Linked DNA regions of Homo sapiens. The protein of the gene in region 1 purifies or fractionates together with the protein of each later gene. This does not show direct contact. Each region holds a gene or a part of one and is shown on either strand. Other genes may lie near its edges.

Region 1 (4,115 bases):
TGTGGATTTGGAGCCCAATGAGCCAGAGCCCCCACCTGAGCCTCTATGGCTGGGGCAGGAAGCTGCCAGGCTGGCCCAGCAGCAGGATCTGTGGACCAAGTTAGTGCCACTAATGGGCCATGTGGGCAGAATAGCACCTCACACCTCTCTTATTTACAGATTCCTATTTTTAAATGAAATCAGAGGTAAACAAAAACACTGCTGGGGAAAACAATACACTAGAGCAATGGCCAATTAATGTACTTGTCTGCACTCAGAGAAATTATTTTTAACGTCATTTTCCAATAGATTTAGTTGTCTTTACAAGTTCATGAAAAAGTAATTTAACAGAGCAGAATCTGTTTAAGACGCACCTACACAATCAGCTTTTAGAAAAACTTAATGACAAATTTGGTAGGGGGAAAAAAGACATGTTAAGTAACAATTCTGAGAGTAGGGTGCATGCAAACTCTCCCTCAGTGACAGTGTCACAGACAAGGGTTTAGGATGCTCAAACCCTTCCCCTCCTGCAGCCACCAGCTTCCTCCTCTCTTGGCTCCATCTTCCAGTGGTTCCCCGCCCACACTGCCTGCACATCAGAATCACCAAAAGCTTCTAAAAGATAGGATACTGAGCCCCACCCATACAGATTGTGATTGACTTGCTCTGGGGTGGGTCACTGCATCAGTAAGTTTAAGAAGTTTCCCAGGTGAAACCTGTTCCCAAATATTGCAGGGGACGTACTTACACTAAAAACATTTATTCATTGTTAATCTGATATTCACATCTAACTGGGCATCCTGTATTTTATTTGGCAATCCTATTCCCTCTCCCTCGCCCCCTTTCTAAACCGTCAGCAACTCCTGTTAGTTATATCTCCAAAATCTATTTCAAGTCCTTCCCTTGCTCCCCATTTCAATGATTACCACCCTAATCCAAGCCACCATCTGGACTCTGGCATGGTGCCCTGAATGACCTCCCATTTCACTCTCCACTGAGTGACCACATAAATTTCTCGAGTATATATTGAGATCATGCCATTCTTATGCTTAAAACCCTTCAGTGGCTCTGACTGCAGAATAACACTTCAAATTTTAAGAATTGCCTCAATACCCGCATGCCTACCTGCAGCCTCTAAGGCCCTGTGTGATTCCGCTGCTGCTCACCCCTCCAACCTCATCTCAAGTCACCTCTCATTCTGTGCTGAAGCCATTCCGTCCTCTCCACATCCTCTGAATGCAGGGAGGGCTTTCCTGTTTGAGGACCTATGCATATGCAGTTCCCTTTGCCTCCTTAGTCTTCTCTGCGCTGGTTTTTCTCATTTTTCAGCTATTTTTAAATGTCACCCAAAGTATATTACAGTTTATTTCCTCCAACATTTCATAATTGTGCGAATTTTATGTTTATGGCTTTATCCCAAGAGACCCCGTTCAGCTCTGTGGCCTTGCACAAACCATTTCCCAAAGTTAGACATGCCTACAAGATCAAGAGGCTGGGAGTAAGATCAGAGCTTCTCGAAACCATCAGGCTGTTTATCAGCCCCGCCCACAACGTGGCACGGCCTTTCTGCGACATCAGATGCTGAGCTGGACCTCCTCCTCCCCACCCCCTAGTCCTCCCCGTCCTCAGGTGGCGTCTGCGGTCGAGGATGTAAGCATTCTACTCGTTGATTAGTATCGTTTCCATTGACAAACCCCAGACTGATGAAGACCACTTTCAGCTGCAGCCCGCCCCCTCCAGCTTCAGCTTCGAAGACACTATTGCCAGTGGGTTTTCTAGAAGTGGTGATCATGGGCACCAAATTATCCCCTCCCTCTCCCTGCATTCTCCCATTATCGTCTACCCTTGGTTAAATACGCTGAAAAAAGAACTGAAGCGGAGTTAAGTACGAGGAAGCCTTAAAGACGCACTTTCTGGCAGCCCCCCGCCCCCTTTCCCCGCAGTGGAGGCTGCCCCAGGTCTACAGGTGCCGCCTTCGCCCGGCCTCGCGTAGCCCACAGCAGGGGCCGCCCGCCCGCCGAAGTTGAAGGCGCACCTCCCCTTCCCGGGAAGGACGACGGTTCCCCAAAAGAGGCGGAGGGTAGTCTCTCATCTGAACCAGGCGCTTTAATGCCTGCCTGAAGCCACCGCGGCCAGCGTGGAGACCACGCAGCGGGCGGGCGGCTGCAAGCCCTGGGCTCCGAGCGCCTCTCCTGTGCGGGTCCCGCCCCCCTCCCCGCATTCCTCTCGTTCTGCTCCCGAGCCCAGGCCACGCTGAAGGAAGTACTTGGGCAGTCTCTTTCCTGGAGAACGGGCCCGCCGGTTCCGGAAGCCTCTCCTACCCCCAGGCTGGTCACCTCGGACTACCGACCCGGGACAAGAAGTCCAAGCAGACTGCGGCGGAGGTAGGCTGGCCTCAGCCCAGCTCCCCCAGGGTCTCCCCCGGAGCGCCGGCCTCCCAGCACGCGAGCAGCCCCCTCCCACCCAGTCCCGCGGCCGCCTCCAGTCCCCCTGCGCCCGGGAAGCCTCCACCTCGCCCGCCCTGACACCGAGGTCCCAGTATCCAAAGCGCCCCCAGGGCCCCGCCCGCAACAGGGGAAGTTGCAGCCCGCCGCTCTCGGTCACCTTGGCCGTCACCGAGGGGCCTCGCTTGCGGAAGCCCTCGGCCCCCGAAGAAAACACAAGTGCGCCGAGCCCCACGCAAAGCACGAGAGGTAGCAGCAGCCGAGGACCCGGGCCCATGGTGAGCGGTGGCAGCGGCGCTACCGGCACGGGCGCTACCGGCACGGGCGCGACACAGGCTCTGGGACAGCTGACGGGACTGCCGGCCGGCTGCGCCTGCGCGCTCCCGGTTGCGGGGGATGGGGATCGGGCAGTCCGGGAAGGGCGGGGACCCGGGGCGCGTTCCTCCCAAGTTCAGACTCGCGACCCGAACTTGGGATTCGGAGGAGCGCGCCCACAGGGCGCAGCCAGGGCTCGACCGCCGCGCCTTAGGCGGGTGCGGAGGGCGCCAGGGACGGGAGGGAGCCCGGGTTGCCCAGGCGCGGAGCCGGGCGCAGCGGGCTAGGCTGGGAGCACCTCCAGGAATTTACCGCGTAGGCGCGGATTAAACTTGGACGGGAAGACCAGGACTCTCGGGCTTCCGCGTCCGCCCGGCAGCTAGCGCTCCGCGGGACTGGGAACTCTGCAGCCGGTCCCGGTGTGATTGCTGCCGCCTTGGGAGCAGCCTCCGCCGCGGCCGCCGAGTTCCAATGGCCCATTGGAACCTTTTGCTAGGTTTTGGACGCTTAGCAGAACTTTGACATCGCTGGAGGCGTGGAGCCCTGTTGCACTCGAATAATGGCCTCTCTTTGAGATGATTCACGTCTAGGGAACACTGGAAAATGCTGGATTCACAGTGCCCCTTTGCCTTCGAAAAACTTTTACATTGGCTTTAAGTACTTTATTTGGAGGATGATTCTGTGATCTTATCTACACTGTTCACAAGGCAGCACTTACACAGGCCCAGAACCATGGTCATGTAGGATTCTTTCCTGGGGAAACAAAGTAAATAAACTGACTTTTAGGTGTATCTGTAGGATGGATTTTTTACAAACTTAAGAATTATGTTTAGGAAGATTAATGACTGGGGAAGTAAGTTCTTATTATATTTTTAAATGGAAAATTCGGGTTGCAAAACCACAAATTCTGATCTCAACCGTGAAAATAAATATATCAAGGCACTTAAATATTGAAAGAGATGTACCACAACGTTTACAGTAGCTATAGATAGAATTGATAGCTATTGATAGACTTATGGATTTTTGAGGGTTTAAAAAAATTTTTTTTACAGTTTTCTGATTTCCCAGATGTTCTACAATGAGCATATAAGTATTTTATAACATGGAAAGGGTTATTTTAAAACTCATTGCTTTTTGAATTAGAATTTCAAAAGAACTTTTTTGTTTTAGAGTAACAGCCCTAAAATTAACTAAAAATTAGTGGTATTCGCACATAGGTGCCATTTTAAGGGGCTGGTGCCATTACTTTCAAGCCAAGATTTTCCTCGGATTAAGAGATGGAATTTCTAAATGTCAGATGGGATTCCTAGGTGTACCTAAGTGTAGATCTAAAATGACATTGGAACCATTAGAGATAAAAGGAGTAACCACTACTTC
Region 2 (4,733 bases), on another chromosome or scaffold:
CTCAATTTCCTCATATCTACAGTGGGAAAAATAACAATGTGTGCCTCATAGGGTTCTTGCGCAGATTAAATGAGATAATGAAATTATTTAACCTAGTACCCAAGAGCTAAAAGAAGAGTGAGCTATTTTACTTTTATAGCTGATAGCTAGAATACCCTAAGCTCTCTGCATGATCCAGGACCCAAGATTCTTTTATCTCATTCTATACTCACGTGGAACTTTCATTGTATGGTGTCTGATCAACCCATTGCCAATGTCGCTGACCTTCTGGATCTGAGAGCCCCACAAAATAAGCAGATTCTTCTTGCAGATTCTGGAAGATGAAATCCTGAGGGGGGAAAAGAAGGAGTCACAGCCTTTACAGTATTCAGCTTAAACTGAATTCTTAATACCTTAGAGAAACAAGAAGAAAAGGAGAGGATCCAGCAACAGCTGCATTAGAGCTCTACGTAGGAATGGGGATCTCTGGCTGAGCAGGGCAGAATCAAAGACATCGCTTGTAAGCATGATGTTCAGTACATACGGAAGGAATTTTTTTTTTTTTTTTTTTTTGAGATGGAGTCTCACTTTCTGTCCCAGGCTGGAGTGCAGTGGTGCAATCTTGGCTCACTGCACCTCTGCCTCCCAGGCTTAAGCGATTCTCATGCCTCAGCCTCCCCAGTAGCTGGGACTACAGGTGTGTGCCACCATGCCTGGCTAATTTTTGTATTTTTAGTAGAGGCTGGGTTTCACCATTTTGGCCAAGCTGGTCTTGAACTCCCGGCCTCAAGTGATCCGCCCGCCTTGGCCTCCCAAAGTGCTGGGATTACAGGCATGAGCTAGCATGCCCAGCCAGTATGGAAGCAATTTCTATGATCAGAATGAATTCTCATCTCAGGTTTACTTCCCCTCTTTTCTTCACTAAGGGATTACATTCTTCAAAGTTGTACATGAGAAAATTTTGGCAGATTCAGTCATTTTCCTTTCATAACTTCAGGGATTCTTTATTTTCATTCCTGAGTGTTGATTGTGATTCATCATGAGTTAACTTTATTTCTTTTCTCTATTCAACTTAATACCTCTTCTTTGTTAAGTAGTTAATCATGTATAAAACATTTACATATTGAAATAACAAATTGATATTTCAGACTGAAACATTTTCATCCTTCCATTCAACCCTCATATATTTTTAATGTCACAATTTCTTCCGGGGAGGTTAGTTTTACTGAAGCAGGAAGGAGGTATGGAATATAAAGGCTTAGGAGCCCTTTCTACCTATTTTATTGAAAGCCTTCTGCCACAGCGCAAATATCCCAAAGTAACAAAAACCTCCTTCTTAGCCAAGAGAGATATACAAAGATCAGGCAGGGCTCACAGCCCCATTATCTATTAGAAAGTACCTGCTCTTCTTGAGTGTTTATCACCAGCAGGTGAGCCTCCATTCTAGCACAGTCCTTCTCACTGTCTTGCCAAGATGCTGATTCAGTAGAAATAAAGTAGCAGTTGGAACTAAATGACTTCCAATTCTTTGGGCAACAGCTCCAGGCTGTCTCTGTATTGGGAAGAGGGGCACATACGTGCAATATAAATAATCACTCTTAAAAGTGTGTGTATTATTAAAATTAAGAGCCAAGAGAGAGCACATGGAAGCTGGAACTCCCCTCCACACTCAGATGCAACCAGGAGCCCCTGCCCCTCAGGTGTCAAGGAAGCCAAGTCTACCTCAATCAGGCAGTAATGAGGCAGGGCCCCTTTTCTCCTGCTGAAGTGCCATCTGAAAAGCCCAGCTATTACGAAAACATGTTTAAATAAGATCCAGACTCTGAGAATATAATGCAAAAATATCCAGAGTTCAATAGAAAATAAGTCATTATGCTAAGAACCAGTAAGTTTTCAAATTTAATAAAATATAATAATCAATAGATGCCTACAATCAAGACAACAAAAATGGGGCCGGGCACGGTGGCTCACATCTGTAATCCCAGCACTTTGGGAGGCTGAGGCAGAAGAATCGCTTGATCCCAGAAGTTCAAGACCAGCCTGGGCAACACAGCGAGAACCTGTCTCAAAAAAAAAAAAAAAAAAAAAAGATAATAAAATTGTTAGAATTATCTGACAAAGATTTAAAAGCAGCCATGATTAAAAAAAAACAAAAAACAAAAACGCTTCAACAAGAAGATACAGACATGCTTGAAACAAATGAAAAACTAGAAAGTTTCAGCAAAGAACTAGAAGATATAAAGAAAAACCAAGATTTCACCATGCTTGGGGCGCCTTCCTTCCCCATGGCGGGACACCTGGCTTCGGATTTCGCCTTCTCACCCCCTCCAGGCGGTGGAGGTGATGGGCCAGGGGGGCCGGAGCCGGGCTGGGTTGATCCTCGGACCTGGCTAAGCTTCCAAGGCCCTCCTGGAGGGCCAGGAATCGGGCCGGGGTTTGGGCCAGGCTCTGAGGAGTGGGGGATTCCCCCATGTCCCCCGCCGTATGAGTTCTGCGGGGGGATGGCGTACTGTGGGCCTCAGACTGGAGTGGGGCTAGTGCCCCAAGACGGCTTGGAGACCTCTCAGCCTGAGGGCGAAGCAGGAGTCGGGGTGGAGAGCAACTCCGATGGGGCCTCCCCGGAGCCCTGCACCGTCCCCTCTGGTGCCGTGAAGCTGGAGAAGGAGAAGCTGGAGCAAAACCCGGAGGAGTCCCAGGACATCAAAGCTCTGCAGAAAGAACTCGAGCAATTTGCCAAGCTCCTGAAGCAGAAGAGGATCACCCTGGGATATACACAGGCCGATGTGGCTCACCCTGGGGGTTCTATTTGGGAAGGTGTTCAGCCAAACGACCATCTGCCGCTTTGAGGCTCTGCAGCTTAGCTTCAAGAACATGTGTGAGCTGCGGCCCTTGCTGCAGAAGTGGGTGGAGGAAGCTGACAACAATGAAAATCTTCAGGAGATATGCAAAGCAGAAACCCTCGTGCAGGCCCGAAAGAGAAAGCGAACCAGTATCGAGAACCAAGTGAGAGGCAACCTGGAGAATTTGTTCCTGCGGTGCCCGAAACCCACACTGCAGCAGATCAGCCACATCGCCCAGCAGCTTGGGCTGGAGAAGGATGTGGTCCGAGTGTGGTTCTGTAACCGGCGCCAGAAGGGCAAGCGATCAAGCAGTGGCTATGCACAACGAGAGGATTTTGAGGCTGTTGGGTCTCCTTTCTCAGGGGGACCAGTGTCCTTTCCTCTGGCCCCAGGGCCCCATTTTGGTACCCCAGGCTATGGGAGCCCTCACTTCACTGCACTGTACTCCTCGGTCCCTTTCCCTGAGGGGGAAGCCTTTCCCCCTGTCTCCGTCACCACTCTGGGCTCTCCCATGCATTCAAACTGAGGTGCCTGCCCTTCTAGGAATGGGGGACAGGGGGAGGGGAGGAGCTAGGGAAAGAGCACCTGGAGTTTGTGCCAGGGCTTTTGGGATTAAGTTCTTCATTCACTAAGGAAGGAATTGGGAACACAAAGGGTGGGGGCAGGGGAGTTTGGGGCAACTGGTTGGAGGGAAGGTGAAGTTCAATGATGTTCTTGATTTTAATCCCACATCATGTATCACTTTTTTCTTAAATAAAGAAGCCTCAACACAGTAGATAGACAAAAAAAAAAAAAATGGAAATTTTATAATTGAATAATATAATAACCAAAATAAAAAGCTCAGTGGATGGACTCAGCAGAATGAAGGGGATAGAGAGATTAGTGAATTGGAAGACAAAACAACAGAAAATGTCAACTGAGCAACAGAAACAAACTAGACAGAAAAGGCTGGGCACAGTGGCTCACGCCTGTAAACCCAGCACTTTAGGAGGCTGAGGCGGGCGGATCACCTGTGGTCGGGAGTTCTAGACCAGCCTGGCCAACATGGCGAAACCCTGTCTCTACTAAAAATACCAAAAAAAGGCTGGGCGTGGTGGCTCACACCTGTAATCCCTGCACTTTGGGAGGCCGAGGTGGATGGATCACCTGAGATGAGAAGTTTGAGACCAGCCTGACCAACATGGTGAAACCCCATATCTACTAAAAATACAAAAATTAGCAGGGCATGGTGGCGCACACCTGTAATCCCAGCTACTCAGGAGGCTGAGGCAAGAGAATCGCTTGAACCCAGGAGGCAGAGGTTGCAGTGAGCTGAGATCGCACCACTGCACTCCAGCCTGGGCAACAGAGCGAGACTTCGTCTGAAAAACAAAAACAAAAAAAAAACAAAAACAAACAAAAAAACCCACAAAGAAACAAAAAAACTAGACAGAAAAAAAAATAAACAGAGCCTTGTAAAGTGACCCCAAATGTGTATACACCAAACAAAGCTGCAAAATGTATAAAGCAAAACTGATACAATTGAAAGAGGAATTGACAAATATACAATTATAGGTGGATACATCAACACCTCTCTCTCAACCATTGACAGAACTACACAGAAAATCAGCAAGAACATAGAACTTATAAACATCATCAATTACAAGGATCCAATCCACATTTATAGAACGCTCCACCCAACAACAGAATACCCATTCTTTTCCAGTGCCTCTGGAACATATGCTGAAACAAACCATATCTCGGGACATTAAATAACATCGACTAATTTAAAATTGCTGAAATCATATCGTTTTCTCCAACCACAGTGAAAAGAAACCAGAAATTAATAAAAGAAATAACACAGGAAAATCTCCATACGCTTGAAACTAAACAACACACTTTTAAATAATCCACGAGTCAAAGGAGATGTCTAAA

What was found. Proteins that work in one complex are often made in the same cells at the same time.
Region 2: the proteins of PPIC (region 1) and CLEC4A purify together in Homo sapiens (co-immunoprecipitation; one large-scale study listed by IntAct). This does not show direct contact.

The regions. Positions count from the first base shown.
Region 1 is NC_000005.10:123,033,926-123,038,040, forward strand, and holds the start of PPIC (peptidyl-prolyl cis-trans isomerase C precursor), read right to left. Parts: upstream 2,801-4,115; 5' UTR 2,701-2,800; coding exon 2,584-2,700; intron 2,364-2,583; exon of another isoform or gene 1,997-2,363; intron 1-1,996. UniProt on the Homo sapiens protein: PPIase that catalyzes the cis-trans isomerization of proline imidic peptide bonds in oligopeptides and may therefore assist protein folding.
Region 2 is NC_000012.12:8,132,383-8,137,115, reverse strand, and holds part of CLEC4A (C-type lectin domain family 4 member A), read right to left. Parts: intron 3,348-4,733; exon of another isoform or gene 2,264-3,347; intron 1,532-2,263; coding exon 1,380-1,531; intron 329-1,379; coding exon 213-328; intron 1-212. UniProt on the Homo sapiens protein: C-type lectin receptor that binds carbohydrates mannose and fucose but also weakly interacts with N-acetylglucosamine (GlcNAc) in a Ca(2+)-dependent manner. Involved in regulating immune reactivity.